2 separate regions of the Homo sapiens genome follow, and region 1 is linked to region 2. Evidence: fine-mapped QTL for protein levels in blood plasma. A gene starts in region 2. The other region holds a variant in brackets. All regions are shown on one strand. Distances are between the middles of the regions. Region 1 overlaps LOC105370286 (a long non-coding RNA gene). Region 2 holds the start of SLITRK1 (SLIT and NTRK like family member 1).

The links. PIP is the posterior inclusion probability: the model's chance that the variant is causal. The UK Biobank Pharma Proteomics Project read protein levels with antibody pairs (Olink). The fine-mapping took linkage between variants from a reference panel, not from the people measured, so its PIPs are less certain.
Region 1: its variant is fine-mapped to the plasma level of the SLITRK1 protein (UK Biobank, PIP above 0.99).

Annotation. Positions count from the first base shown.
Region 1 is chr13:83,791,284-83,799,629 of GRCh38, forward strand. The region is part of intron 3 of LOC105370286 (a long non-coding RNA gene); the gene reads right to left. Among named protein-coding and RNA genes, the nearest start is that of SLITRK1, 87 kb to the right of the region's middle. The variant T/A (reference allele first, on the strand shown) is at 3,367.
Region 2 is chr13:83,878,971-83,887,266 of GRCh38, forward strand. SLITRK1 (SLIT and NTRK like family member 1) reads right to left here and starts at 3,504. Exons shown (of 2, transcript NM_001281503.2): 1 at 3,034-3,504; 2 at 1-2,590. The coding sequence starts at 2,537. The coding sequence ends at 447.

The DNA.
Region 1 (8,346 bases), 88 kb before region 2:
ATGGAGAAAGATTTCTGCTTTTATATATATCCAGAAATGGCAGCAGTTTATTAATTCTTGCTTGGGCTTTTAGATGAGTAAAGAGTACTTTAAAACAATATTTTCTTTTCCTACTTACAAATTGCTGCTTATAATATAATTAAATAAATTTAAAAATCACTCAAATATAACCTAACAAAGGAGTATTTCTTTTAAATCTTACATATAGAGGGCAGAACACTCTAAATTACTTTCTGTTATATTTTAAGCACTCCCTAAAGACTTAAATAATAGTTGATTGAGTGTTTTAGATATTAATGATTCATAGAAAACGTCTGCATTCTTCCCCTTAACAATTAAAATAACAGCATTAATCCTAAATTAAAACATGCTTTAATTTGGTTATTTGCCCCTAATATTTGTCCCTCTGTTTTTTTAATTTTAAATTGCAAATTATATTTTATGATATGAAATATACAATGATGCTATAAAAATATATCAATATCTATTAAATTTCCATCAAGACACTCACTTTAATTTCTGTGGAAATACTATGAGAGTTTTTAAATTAGGATTTATCTACCATTTGGGCAGAGAAAAGATATCTAGGCACACATAAATAATGAGTAGTGAATCACCGGGGAGTTCCCAAGAAATAGAGTCAGCAATTTTTTTGTTTTGTTCTGTTTTTTGAGACAGGGTCTCACTCTGTTACCCAGGCTAGAGTGCAGTGACACAATCACCGGTCACTACAGCCTCAACCTTCCAGGCTCAAACCATCCTCCCACCTCAGACTCCTGAGTAGCTGGGACTATAGTCATATGCCACCACATACAGCTAATTTTTTTTAAGAGATGGGATTTCATTATGTGGCCCAGGATAACATGGAATCAGAAATTTTAATAATGGTTTGTATTTTCTGTTGTCACAGGCATTGCCCTAAATGAATTTGAGTTGTCCCAAGTCAATATGTTTACCTATATAAGAGGATATGTTTGCAATCATAGCTGAGGTCAAGCATTCATTGTACAGCTTCCCTGTAAATTTTTACTGCTTATTACTGCTAAAATCACTAGCTGGAAAGAGGCAAGAAAATAAAATTTTTACAAAAGTCAGGTCAATTGAGGAGCTCCACTGCTAATAGCACCAACTTCAAGCAGATTTGTATATGAGCTTGTCCTGGAGGGAACAGTTTCTAATAAAATCTGACTCTACTTTTAAGTTTTCTACATTAGGCACTTTGAATGGATCCACACAACAAATTGAACACTAGGCAGCTTCACTGTTTTCTGATATGCAGTTTTGAATATTGTATATTACCCCAATTACACATCTAGAAGGATATAAAAACATATTGTGTGCACGCTTGGATTAACAATTAATTTAATGACATATGTTTGTGAATATACTTTTCTTTCATTTAACTTTTATGACTTAAGAGGAAACAATTCTTTGATAGTGATTTCTATACCACTTTAACATATTACCATAGTTGTTTTTTTTTTGTTGTTTTTTTTTTTGGCCTAAAACAACACACTATTATTATCTAACTTCTGTAGGTCAGAAATAGGAATGAAATTCTGCTGGTTTTTTGCACTGGGTCTCAGAGAGCCAAAATCAGTGTCAGTGAAGCTTTGCTCACCCTTTCTGGAGGCTCTGGGGAATTAACCAGTTTCCAAATTCACTCTGGTTGTTTGGAAGAATTCAGTTTCTGTAACTGAGGTTTTCATTTCTTTGCTGCCTCTCAGATGTGAGGGTTAATCTTCCCTCCTAGAGGTTAGGGGTATTTCTTCTCATGCTTTGAGGTGCCTGCGACACTCTTAGTAACGGCCCTTCTCACCCATGGTCTCCAGCAACAGCAAGTGGATTCCCTCTCAGACTTTGAATCTCTCCAACTTCCCTTTTGCTGCCTCTTTATGCCATCTTGTTCTTCAACTAGCTGTAGACAATACTCTGCTTGTTTTTTGTTTTTTTTTTTTTCTTTTTTTGAGATGGAGTCTCACTCTGTTGCCCAGGCTGGGCAGTGGCGTGATCTTGGCTCACTGCAACCTCCACCCCCCGGGTTCAAGCAATTCTCCTGCCTCAGCCTCCTGAGTGGCTGGGATTACAGGCACCTGCCACTGCACCGGGCTAATTTTTGTATTTTTATTAGAGATGGGGTTTCACCATCTTGGCCAGGCTGGTCTTGAACTCCTGACCTCATGATCCACCAGCCTCGCCTTCCCAAAATTATCTGCTTTTAGAGGCTGATTAGATTAGATTAGATTGGGTGATTAGATCAGTGACACCTGGATAATTCAGGTCACCTTTCCCTATTTTAAGGTCCATGACATTAATTATATCAGCAAAATTCCTTTTACCACATTGGGTAACATTCACAAATTTTCAGGGCAAGAACGTTGTACCTTTTGAAGGGTCTACTATTCTGTCTACCAGAACTGCTAATCCACAGGAATTGGTTTACCTTTTCCTTTACCTTAGCATCTGATTTTTTGGGGTCACATTTTTTGAAATATGAACACAACACTTAATGTTATATAATATAGTTATTGTCAATTGAAGAAATACATTGATTTTTTTCTATCTTAATTACAGAAAAAGTAGCATGATCAATGTTTTACTTAAAAAATATTGAATCAGAGGTTTTAAAAGTATCTGATATCTACCCAAAGTTATGTTTCTCATTTTAAGAAAATCAGTAAATTGAATATTAAAATAAGAGACAGATTTTCCAGTCCATTTTTTTTCTGCATTCCCCCCCCGCAACTCCCCAAAAATATACAGGATCTGAAATTCCATGATATCATGTTCATTTTACATCCCCAACAATGAGACTTTGTATTGATGCTGGCTGAAATCGATGAATGTGTGACAGAATATTCTTTCCATCCTTAATTAATATTAAATGGGCTTTGCATTTAAATAGTCAGTTTCTATTTCGCATTCATTTCCTCAAAGAACTTAACATTCTTAGGCAGGAAAAAAAGTGGTAATTTGTACCTTTCAATATGTTCTTTCCCCTCTATGCCTTAAACATTATCTGTAGTTCCATTACATGGTATAAGTATTGCAACAAAAAGTGTCTTGACTGTTCATCACTCCAAGCATATTCTTTAGAAATAATATATTTTCAGTCCTGAAAGTGCTTGCTTACATTTAGTTCATTAAAGTTTATTATTTCCTAAAATGCATGAAGTAAAAAATATATTTCTGTTCATGTTTTAGATTTTCTATTAATTTTACTCTGCTGTTCATTTTTTCCCATTTTCATAAACTAAGTAAACATAGTAAACTCTCCATAGTTTTTAAAGCATGAAATTCTTTCTGACATAAGCAGGAAATTACTTCAGTTTAATGATGAGGCAGAAATCCAACTGATTACAACAG[T/A]ATCATTTACTGATTTTAACAGTGAGAAATTCTGTGTTGCTATTTTGGGAATTTAATTTCTTTGCAGTCTGTCCCTTCAGCACCCAGGACATTTCTGGAATGATGGATATTCTATGAGGAAGGCAATGTCAAGCCTACAGACATGCCTGAACACACTGTGGAAATTTATGGCCTGCTTTCTTGGTGCTAATGTAATGAGCTGCATCATAGTTAAGGTTCAAGAAGAGAAGCTGTCATTTCAGTATCTTGACATACATCAGTGTTAGAAAAATTAACCATTTTCAAACAGATAAAAGCCATGCGCGTATTTTCCTCTATGTTGTTATATATAAATATAAGTGCAATTAAACTAATCATGGAAATGAATTATTTTCTAGGACATTTACACTTAAAACTGATGATAAAATGTTTAGGAAAATCAAGATCTAAGGGAGCATTGACATTTTTTATAACAACTGGATATGGAATTTAAATTTCAATATTTTTATGCAATAAAGTATTAGTAATATCCTAAAGTTTTACATACACACACACACACACACACACACATACACACACATTTATTGTCAGACAGAATGAGAAGATTCTGTTTGGAATTATTTTTCTAGAACAGAATAAAGATTTAAGCCAGGAAAACATATTGACAAGTTATTTAGTGTGCTATATTTTTTAAAGAAATATAGCAAAAGTCTTTTCTATGGAGCTCTCTTTGAAAAGTCTCTCTAATGCTATAATACTTACCATGTTTAATGCTTTCTAAAGTTAAACATGTGGTGACAAATAAATGTATTCCTTTATCAGCCCAAGTACAAAACTTTTATGTATGTTTCAAGCCAATTGTCATTTTTTAAATCTCCAGTTAAAAATTTTAATTATCAGTAACAAATGTGGACATGCAATTATATTCCATAGCTGGTATGTTTAAGCAGGTCTAACTCTTTTCACCCCAAGCTAAGTATCTCAGTTGGTACATCACTGTCTTGAGTTTTTAGTACAAAGTGGGTTTCTGTTAAAAATAACTATAGTTATAACATCAAAAAAAACTTGAGATAAATAGAAATTTTAGTTCATGATTTTTTCAAGAGTACAAACATAATTCAAATATAATTGCTACTTTAAAATTTCACTCATGTCAGAGTATAAGCAATCACAAATACAGAAAACAACAGTTATTTGTTGAACATGTAGTGAAGACTTTGATGAACAGGATTCCTTTCATGTAGTGGGCCACATGAAGAAATTCACATTAACATGAAATTTTGACTTTGCATATGGATGCATATTTTTTCACAGCTTTTGAAGTCTACAGGGATTCCATCACTTTCTTCCCAGAATGTTCTCCATGAGATAATTGTGTGCCGTTTTGAGATGGGAGAGTTCCCTGAACCCCTTTGCTTTTTTGCAACAGGGATGTGGATGGCTTACTCCACCATTATGCTCAAACACTTTGCAGGAGGGACAGCACACAGATGAGTGGGTGCCGGGGCCGGGGCAAGCGCTTTTGGGCTCTGGCCCCATGGTAGTGTCTAGGGGTGTGTTAGAACTAATGCTCTTTTAGCAGTAGCCATATGCAAATGACTTAAGTGTTCACCAGCTCAGTGGTGAGCTGGGTGACAGCGTTTTACACCCTGCCCTCTTGGTACCCTGGTCCTTGTCTGACATCCAGGAAGAATCAAATCAGATGGACTTGAGGGATGATGAATGTGGAGGTTTTATTGAGTGATGAAGGTGGCTCTCAGTTGGATGAGGAGCTGGAAAGGGGATGAAGTGGGAAGATAATCATCCCCTGAAGCCAAACCATCTCCAGTTGGCTCCTCTCCAAAGTCATGCCATCTGAAATTAAGCCAAGTCTATCCACAGTCTCTGACACTCAGTTGCCTCTTCCCCACTCGACATTCAGCCTCTTGGCCCTCTGCCAGCTGAGGTCTGGGGTTTATATGGGCACAGGATAGAGGGGCAGGGCAGGCCAAAAGCAATATTTGGGTGGGAAAACAGGGATGTGAAATTCTCATTTAGGGCCGTGGGCCCCAGCTTGAGAGCAGAGACCTCACCAGGGACCCTGCACTCTTCTACCCCACATTTCCTGGCCTCCTGTCTGTATCAATTTCAATTAAAATCTAATTTAGTTTCCTTCTACTTTCAAAAGCCACTTTAAAGTATAAGTACAATTTCTTATGTTACTAAGGGAAATCACTATGTGGATGAATACAGTTACATTCACTTAACATTCTAAATGTACAATACATCTAATCTCCTCAGCCCCTCAGGTTTAAAAAATATATATACAGTTTTCAATGATGAAATTGAACAATTCACTTTGCAGATTAGGTTTTGTTTTAATCTTGTTGACTGCAACACCTTCCTGCTGGTCACTGTTATTACGTTGTCTATTTATCCCTGTTCTTCACTTCTCTGTATGCCAAACAGAAGCCTAAAGGAAAGGTCTTTTATGAGTTAACTCTCCTCTGGTAACAGAATATATCAAAAGGAAAACTGGAATCAAGGAGAAAACATTACAAAGATATTGACCATTCATCACCTTAATTGAAAATACTCCTTTCTAATAAGAAATTGAAAGCTTAGTCTCCCAACAAATTATTTTCAAAAATACAGCTAATTTTTCAGTGACCTAATCAAAATCTTATGTAGTAAACCTTTCTGCATTGAGCCTATATATATGTGCTATCTGTCCTAGACAAAGTTATGAAGAAGGCAAAAGTCATTTAATGTTAGTCTCCCAGGTTCTGCTCTTTAAAATTTAGATTCACCAAATATTTGGATTATCATGGATAGAGAGACATACAAACTCTCTAAACACAATATAGTTAACCTGTGCCCTGGTCACTTAAGCCAATGACTTGAAATTGATTGTTTCAAAAATTCTCTATTATCAGAATTTCTGCCTTAGAACATTGTATGGAAAAGGTCCCTTAGTGACTTAGCTATTATTTTTACTATTTTCTGAAAAATACTGCAGAACTCTGAAAGCTAGAAGTTGGCTTTTTGTCAACTTTTAAAAATTCTATTTACAAAACTATGGTAAAGGAAAATATTTTAGCAGCATGTGACACAGTATGCTTTGCTACACATGACATTTTACTTGAAGATGCAAAGTTCCATGCATATCCTACTAAGTAACAAAAGGACCTAGGTCAATTATATATTGCCTTGATTGGTTAAATTTTAGGTAACCAGCTACAGATTTGTTTTAATATTCTCTAGCTTATTTTAGACATCTTATATGGGGAAATACATGTAAAATAAATAAGTACGTAGACTTTCCTTTAGGATTTATTTTTTATGTTGGAAAATTAGTAAATAAAAATCTCTAAATTAAATATTTTTCAAGTGGTAAAAGGTCATTTGCTGCCTAATTGGATTTTCTCAAATATGTATATGTATACATATATTTAACATATATATGTATACAGAATTTTGAACAAATTTACTATAGAACATTTGAACCTATTTCCTACTGAAGTATTCCAGATTATGAGAAATTCTGTAGATAATTTCAAGAACATCATTTAGAATGAAATACAATGAACATTCTCTCATATGAGTGTTCTTAATCTAAGTGTCAGAATGTTATATTACTAATAGAATGTCTAACTTAAGTTTAACTTTTAATATTAAAGAAAGAAATCATAAACTTAAAATGTATCAAGACATTGGTCTTCTAATGGATAATGAAGACTATTAGTAGAATAGTTTAGGTCATAAATTTTACTTTCTCTAAACTCTAAAGACAATGGAGACATTAGTGACAATTTGCTTAAATTAACCTGGTCTTGCTTGCTTTGTTTTGTTCAAGTGAAACATACCATTTTACTGTAAAATATTTGGGTTAATTTGGTTACTTTTTAAAATTGAGCAATGCTCAACTGCCACTAAAATAAAAAATGTTTTTTGGTATGCCACTATAATCAGAAGTAATCACAGTAAAATACCATACTGAGACACATAATTTCCTTCCAAATTTGACAGGAACTTTAAAACTAAGATGAGAGAAGAAACTTTCATGAATAAAGTGCTTCAGATATCTCGCTGATAGAGCATATTTCAGAAAAGCAGACCAGGAAAGCTTGTTGTGCTTAACCTTGATGGATCAAGGACATCATGGAACCAGACTGCTTGGATTCAAGTTCCAGCTCCATCACAGGCTTACATCAGAGCTTTAGGAAGTTGCTTAACATTTCTGTAGTTCAATTTTCTCATCAGTGAAATATAGATAAATAATAGAAATATCTGCCCCATAATCTCATTGTAGGGATTAAATGACAATAAACAGTGGTTAGAACGGTGTCTGACTAGAAGATAAGGTTCTGTAAATTGTTATATGCTTAATCTTCCCAAACATCATTTCCTAGATATGACTAAAACTCAAGTCAATTTATTTTATTTTCAGCAAATACAACTAAATATGACTCACTCAGATATCCTTACAGAAATTTCATAATGGCTCTTACCATTATTTCCATAAGATTCTGCTACTAACAATGAAATTCTTATTGAAATTGAGGAACTAGGAGAACACAAGAGGAGAAATCGGCTATTACATGTACTTAGGATCCTTTAGGCAATGAAAATTAATTAATAATAATTCTTATTAACTATAAAAACTGAAAATAATTTTTCAGCTTTAAATGTAATAATGCTAAAATTAATGGTAAAATTTATTAAAGGACATGTGTACTATACTGATAAATATAGTTTTAAAGTGGACTTTTATACATGCTTAACTTTATTTCATATTTTATTTTATCTTTTTATTCTCTTAGTCTAGAACTCTGAATTAAAAGCCTGAATTAAAGTCAAGTGTTAATAATATCAAATAAGATAAAACCAACAAAAAGTTAATGCCCTATATAAATGAATATTACTGATAGGGTTGCTAAATTGAAATACCTGTGTAATAATAAAATTTTGCAGTTATATTGTCCTTTCATCATCTCATGTGTTTTACAAATTACTTAACTG
Region 2 (8,296 bases):
CCCATCCCTGCGTAGCCAACAGGGAGCCATCACGGGGCTAATCCACAGGGGAAAAATAGATATCTATCTCTCTATATAGATGTGGATATATGTATATATGTATAGAACCGCGGCATCCAACCCCACAGGCCCCGGGGCCGAGGGCGAGGGCACTGTCAGTTCTTCCAGCAGGGTCGTGCTGGGCTTTCTGTCAAAAGGGGCTCTCAGCAAAGAGCGAGCTGGCTGCGCTCTCCCAGCTCTCCACAGTCTGCTCTTTGTTTCAAGGAGGGAGCTAAGTAAGGGGTCAGGCCCTTTCGGTTGTGCGAGCTCACAGTTATTTATCTACTTATGCCCATCCAGGCTGATGGCGCGGGGATTTGGGTACACGCCCCTCCAGCCCCCGGGGTGCCTGCGGTGGGGAAGGATGTATCGCCTTCCCTCTGCCCTCCCCTATTGGGGTTGGGGTCTTAGTCTGAGAGCGAGTGAGAGCCACAGTCATACACTCTGTGGGCCCCATCTGCGTTGTAAGGCCCATTGTGCCAGTAGGAAGAGTCACAGACTGTCTGTAGGGAATTAATCTCGGACGCGGAGGAGTTGGCATCTCGTCTCTTGGACCGCTTTCGGTTCCTCAGGATAAACACGAGCATGCCCACCACGGTGAAGGCGGAGGTGACAAACACCAGCAGCAGTCCCGGGACCAACACCGAGATGGACACCCTGCTGGTGTCTAGGTAGGAGTTGGAGTGCGTCCCGGTCTCCGCCAACCCAGTGCTGTTTTTACTGTGCGAAGTTAACGTGGGCGAGATCCTAGCGTACAGCTGAGGGCAGATCTCGTCATTGGAGAGGAGCATGAAATCCTTTCTAAAGAAGTTCACCGGCGTCTCACACTTGAGGTCGCTCATCAGCACTTCGGAACCCAAGCGTTCTGCCCACTGCTTGAAAGGCACAATTGTGCAGGAGCACTCCCAGGGGTTTCCGTGGAGGTCTATCTGGATGATGGAGGTTAACTGGTCCAGCACCCCTGCCACCGGGAGGTACATGAAGTAATTGTTGTGCAGGCTGAGTTTAGAGAGCGAGACCCCAGCGAACACGTCCACAGGCAGGGACCTCAGCAGGTTGTTGTTGAGAATGAGGATCCTCAGTTTGGGCATGGCATTGAAAGTGCCCGGGAGGATGAGCTGGATAGCGTTGTACTCCACGTTCAGGTACTCTAGGTTTTGCAGCCCCGCGAATTTCTCCCGGGACAGCGTGTCCAGGTAATTGCTATCCATGTATAGCCACCTGAGGTCCAAAAGGTTCTTGAAAGTGTTGTTCTCTACAGTAGCGATGTTATTGTTGCCCAGATCCAACAGAATGAGGTTCTTGTAATCCACAAAGTGCGATTTTCGGATGCTGTGGATCTTGTTATCTCGTAGGAAAAGCTCCTGCACGTTAGAGAGCTTGGGCTTCAAATCAGCCAAGCTGCTCACGTTCCTGTTGTTGCAGTTCATCTTTAAACCCGACCCTGGGATGTGGTCGCAGCTGCAGCCCCCAGGGCAGGGTAAACTGTTAGCTAAGGGTTTGTTCCTGGAGCTACCCGTCGCTATCGCTGCTGTGGGTCTGATTTTGATCTGCCAGTTGCCTGGGATCTTTGTACCTCCGTTTGGAGCAGACCCTGGTGTGGCATGATCCTCTTGCCCATTTGTCTTGAAAGGAGTTGGCAGGGGTCCAGGAGCAAAGGTCTCTTCTTGGGCAGGGGGCGCCGGGAGACTAGAATCCACTCGGTTTTTCAAAGGACACAAGTCCTGTTCGGTGGTTTCATTGAGGTCTTTACCCTGCAGTCTGGTGGGGGCTTCGCAGACCACTCGGCCGATCAGGGCATTCTTGGGAATGTTTTCCAGCCATTCTTTCAGGGAGAGCAGATCACAGGTGCAGTCCCAAGGGTTATCCTCTAGCAGGATCTCCGCAATACCAGGGATTTGCTCCAAGACCTCCTCATAGGGCAGCGTTTTCAGCCTGTTACCCCGGAGGTCGAGGTGGGTGATGGGCACATACTGGAACACGTTGGCAGGTAGGGTGCTGATGAGATTGTCATTTAAAATGAGCACCTCCAGCTTGTTCAAGTCCTGGAAGGCCCCCGGGTCTATATCTCGTAATAAATTAAAATCAGCCTGGAGATATTCCAGATCGTCCAGCCCCAGAAAAGTCTGCTTTCGAAAAGACTTGATCTTGTTGTTGTTGATGTGCAGCCTTTTCACCAGCTGCAGCCCCAGAAAAGCCCCCGGAACGATTTCATGCAAGCCATTGTTTTCCATGTGCAAACTAACCGCATTATAAAAGTTAGCGAACTCATTAGGGAAAAGTCGAGTGAGGGAATTGCCATGCAGAAATAAATGGTAAAACTGGGAAGTCGGGGCAGTGAAACGCTGCAGACTTGTGAAGCCCTTTTTTTCACAGTCTACGTGTAGGTCCCCTTCTATCTCATTGCAGGAACAGATCTTCTCTTTGCAAACGTCCCCTGTAACGTTTCCAGCGGCAAAACAAAGAGACGTCTCCAGCAACAGAATCCAAAGCAGCATTTTTAAAGCGAGCAATTCATCCCCGATCTCATCACAAAGTAACAGCGACCATCCTGCTCGCCACAGACACAATTCAAGTTCATTTAGTGCTCCAATGTCCGAAGCCAGGAAAGGAGAAGAAAAGGGTTTGGGGGGGTGGGGGTGGATTCCTTCCTCCCTAACCCCCCCGCACTGCAATAGCCCAGACGCCAGTCAATAATTATATCCACAAACTATCCAGGCACGTAGTGCAAGGCAAGCAAAGAAAAAAAAAAAAAAAAAAAAGTAGGAAAAAAACCCCACTCCCCCACAACACTTTAAAAATAACAGAAAAAGAAGTTAAATATATACATATAAATTAAAAGTACACCCTTACAGAATCTCATCTACTGATCTTCACTGATCAGAAATGAAACAATGCTAGTAATTAGAAGCAAGTGCATGTTAGAGAAACAAGCAGAGGGTTTGCAGCGTAGTACAGGCGCACTGCCTGTGCATGGCTGTGCGTCGGACTGACCTTGCCTCTCTGATACAAAGCAGGGTTTTCCGCGGCTTCTGTTGTTGAGGCTGCTGGTGGAGTTCTTGCTGTGGTTGCGGGTTGCCCAGAAGTCCCCCCGAGGTGCTGTCCAGTTCCCCCGGTGCTGAAATCACGCCCGACCGAAGGACTCACGCTGCCCAGCCAATGGCGCTGGAAAATTTCCGCAATCGCTGCGTTTTGTGGTTGTCCATCCTTTTCCTTTCCTCCCCTTCGGTCCTCTTAAGGCTTTTTTTTTTCTTTTCTGTGCTCTCGCTCTCGCTTACTAGCTCTTCTTTTCCTGTTCTCCTTCTCTTTCTTCTGCTCTTTCGGAATTACGTGGAGGGGGGCGGAGGGCGGGGGGCGAGTTGTCTGAGGGAGGAAGAGAGCGCGAGAATGAGGGGAGGGGGGCGGAGAAGAGAGTTGCTAAGAAGCTCTGCTCGTTCCAGCCTGGTGCACTCTGAAAGATCTGACACCCTCTGCTGATCTGCAGTAGCAAAAATCCATCTGGCTAGGGAATGCTGAAAGAAAAAAAAATCAATCCACGTACAGGGCAAGCGTTAAAAATGTGGGCATAAAAGGCTGACGATCTACATAGATGCTTATTTTAAATGGATTATTTGATTATTTTTGCGTGCTGGAAACTTTACCCTTTCCTTTCCTTAACGAGTTCACAGCCCCCACCAGCTCCACCATTCGGAAAGGAGTGCTTTTAAAACATTTATTTCCCAATGGCTTGAATAAAATTAGTGTCAGGGTGTCAAGCGAACAGCAATTTGAGGTAATTATACTGCACGCCATTTTCATCGGTTCTTTAAATGCATTTCTTCCTTCTCTGCGGCACAGTGTTTTACGCTATTTGATGTCTTTGAAACATTTCTTTTGGTATGTTCAAAGTGGCTTTCGGAACATATATGTTACATAATATCATAATTGAGTATGAATTTTTTTGCAAGGTATATAAATTAGGCATATACTTTTTAAAACTTGCAGAAATTTAGTCAATTTGGTCATTGAGAGTTAGGTTCTTTGATATTTCTTGAATGTTATTTAACTCTGGAGGGTGAAACACAATGCATGCTGAAGTCCTTGATTCCAGTCCCGAAAGCTTTAACTGAGAACCGGAAAAGAAGGGAGAGGGGGCAGGGAAAAATCCCAAGATGATTTGTGAGTGCTGTTAAAAACCCACTGGCAGGCAGGCGCGCGCACACTACACGCACGCACACACACACACACACCCCACTGACAAAGTTTTCACATCAGTTTGAACTAATTTAAATGTTTACAAGTAAATAACCAGTTGCATTTTGAGAGGAGGAGATAGAAATCTCTGGACTCTAAAGCTCAGCGAGAACGCTCTCTGCAGGTAGCCGGCAGCTCCTCTTCGCGCAGATGCTTGTTGGGTCACTGATGCTGGGGAAACACGAAGCTCAGGCTTTTTCCAGTTAAGGAAACAACAGATTCCAAACTCTGAGCTTATAAAAATCCAGTAATATCACCTTCTGGGATGGAAGAAAACGTGAACATGCTGCTTCCGTGAAGCCTCTTTTGCTGACTTTTCCTTTCAGAGTCGACACCTTTTCACATCAATACGTCCTAAAATATTTATAGATCATTTTAGGATTTGAAATTTTTAGGTCTTTTAAATAGAGTTACTGTTTGGCCCTTTCTTCACTCTATGCAGAGAGGATATGTTTACACCACTTGCCTTTTTAATTAGGTCTTTTGCAAGTTGGACAGCTGCAACGAGCTTGCTAATATTTTGTGCAAAAGAGCAAATGTTCAAGGAAGTGTGTATTTTGAGAAAGATGGGGAGTAAAAATTTGGGGGAAAGGACTGGGGTTGGGAAAATTCCCAAGGCTAGGGAAGGTCTTAAAGATGTTTACAAGATTTTTTTTTCTGGGTCAGAATCTAATTTCTAGGTGGGTGGAGAAAATTTCATATCTATATACAATGTTTTCATATGACAAAATATTTTTGTTGTATTCCTCTGGTGAAATTCAGTGAAGGGAGGTGGGGATGAAGACATTTCAGTGTGTGTGTGTATGTGCATGCATGTGTGTGTTTGTGTGTGTGCACGTGTGTACACTAGAGAGATCTTTTTTAGACATCCTGATACACTTCTGAAATAACTCTGTTCTCATTTAATTTGACCCATTACCACATGTAGAGAGTGAAAAAAAAAGACCTTAATCAATTTGAAACCATTATGCTAAAGAAATGCTATGCAGTTGAGAACTGCAGATGTGGAGGAGTTCAACTGAAGGAAATCATTTTTCTGTTTCTTCTTAAATAGGACTCAGGTCTAAAATATCTTGGCCCAAGAAACCACTCTGAGAAAGGAAATCAGCCTTATGGTGTCTGTGATTAATAGGGTTAGGCAAGACTCAAGGAAAACAGAAAAATGCTGGCTGTTTAGAAAGGACAATCATCTAAAACCCACATTTTTAACCTTAAAAGGTTACATTTTTTTTCAACTTACAGAATATTATCTTTATGTGAAGAGACTCCAAGAACATATTTAAGTTGATTTAAATGAATTTAGATAACCTACAGTTTGTATTCAGATTTCATTCTCCTCTTCACCCTTTAAATTCTGTATCTTTCTCTCATCCCTTATTTCTTCTTTCCTCTTAACACACCAATCACAATAGAAAATTTACAGTTAGGATTCTCCTATTTAGGTATCTTACAAAATTTTTTAAATTATATCCTCTTCAAATAATTTCTTATCTCTGCACTCTAAGAAAAAAGTGTGGTAGTTCTCAGATGAGCAACTAAACCTGAGAAGAAAAGATTAAGATTATACCGCCTATATGAAGATCTCCAATACAAACTTGCAAGCAAAATATAGAGGTACACATGTAAGTCTATTGAAATGGACCCTCTATAATAGCTATCATAATATTTTCATAATAAATATATTTTAGAGACATAAAACGGTCTAGAAAACCACACCTACAACTTCAAAGCCTAACTATTCAAGTTAAACAATAAATTTATTGGTGGAGAATAAAAATATAAGGGATTTATATGTGATCTAAACATTTCTAATACCTTAGGGGAATATTTCTTAGGCATGAATTTTTCTTAAAAGGGTTCCACGCTGTCTATTTGAGCTCAAGTGAACTCCTTCAGTTGCCTTGCCTCTCAACAGATAATCTCAGTAGCTGGAGATAAAGGATATTCCAGATGATGATGATGATTGATAATATTTGCTCAGGGCTATAGTTTAATTTCCTGGCTGTGACCAGAAAGATTTCAATTGTGTCATTAAATGTTCACACATTTCTATTCTTCATCAAACAAGTTCTCCTCTCAAACAAGAAAAGGTGTATGTTGATTGTTCAATAAAGAATTTTTCAGACTAAGAAGAAATTTGCCAGTTAATTATCCATTTTTTCCCAAATGGCATCAAGTTTCTAGATATTTCCATATGTGCACTACATTTTTAAAATGAAAAAGTAGAATTTATAACTAACTTTTTTTATCCAGTTTATTTAATCTTCACAATAACTTTAAAAATTACTGTTCTAATTTTTAACTGTAAAAGTAATACTTTGATTTAACAAATACAAAATTACATATAGGAAGTCTATCTTTACTCTTCCCTCATCCACAATACTTTTTATTGCAGAGAACTAAAGATAACTGGTTGGTTAATAGTGAATTTGATCCTATTTTATGGATGTGGAAACTGAGGCTAAGTAACATTGACTAATTTACCAAGATTAAAAAATATCATTTGACTTTGTTATGGTAACAAAGCTACAGACTCCTGAACTAAGCTTTTATTCTACTAAGTCTCTCTTTGTTCTTAATATACAATGCCATTTATGACCCTGGTTAAGCTTTCTGTGGATCAGTTTCCTTACTAGTATATTTAACACATACTAGTATATATTATAGTTTATGATTTTTTTGGTCCCTTCACGTTGCTTTTTTCTGAATCCAAAACACTTTAAAAATGATTTTACAACAGACCTAGTGTCTCTTGCCTTCCTTAGACTTTTCACATTTGAACTCAGGATAATTGTTACCACATTTAATATTTACTATGATTTGAAACCAGTAATAAACAGTATAACCACTGTAGGAGAGAATTCATTAGTCCTAAGTTTAATCTACTACTGTCATAAGATAAAGGGGTCATTGTGATTTTTTTCATCTTGAGATAATAATTGTAAACTACAAGACAGGGTTATAAATGAATTGTACCTATAAACAAATATGCTTAGAATGTAAGATTCTCACACATATTTTCATATCTTATTTTTGTAGATTGTAATATTCTAGGAATTGGGTGCTACGATAATGAAGATATTACACAATTTCTGAAGGTGAAGTTAATACAATATTTTTATAGTATTTCTTTTATAGTATATTGCTTTTTAAAACTTAGCAACTTTTATTTCTCATCAAAGAAATAGCAATCTCAGTAAAACACATCAAAATGAATGTACAGTTTTACTTTGTGGCTTAAAGTATCACTGTCCTATGTTTATATCATTTTATATTTTTTATTACTTTGGGCCATAGGTTTGGCTATGAGTTTCTCATATAGTCTCATTTTTGTAACAAATCTCATATTGGGCTTATTGGAAAGAATACTGATCAAAATATAATTTTATATATTCAGAAATTCTAATTTATTATTTTTGTTATTTCACATGAATAAGGCAACCAAAGTTTTGCCCAGTAAGGGTAATACTCTTAGCTATATATCACACTATACTACACACACTACAAGTATATGAGAAGGATCTATATTTCCACAATTGTTTATTATATTAATTGATGCTTAAGTATATACTTTTTGAGCACTTGTTTTAGTATTTTCTATATGTTCACAAGACCTTGCAGATACTCACACACAGAAGAAAAAGTCTGTGTTTCCTACAAAGTATGTATTATATTGTAAGATAATGAAATACATATTACTTACATAGGTTTTAGGAAACACAGAAAACAACAAAAAAGAAAGTTGAAATCCACAGAGATTAGTGCTGTAAAAATATACATATACTTTTTAACATGCTTTTTGTACTTAACATTTATTTGTGAAAAATTTTAATGTTATTAAACATCTTCTACTATCAGAGACTTAATTCCTTGTATGACACAAAATAATTCATAGGACTAATTTTACCATTGGATATTTAGTTCTTTATAGAATTTTTACTCTCATAAATAATGCAGCAAAGAACCACCTTAAACATAAATCAATGTTAACATCATTATTTATTTTCTTATTATAGGTTCCTGG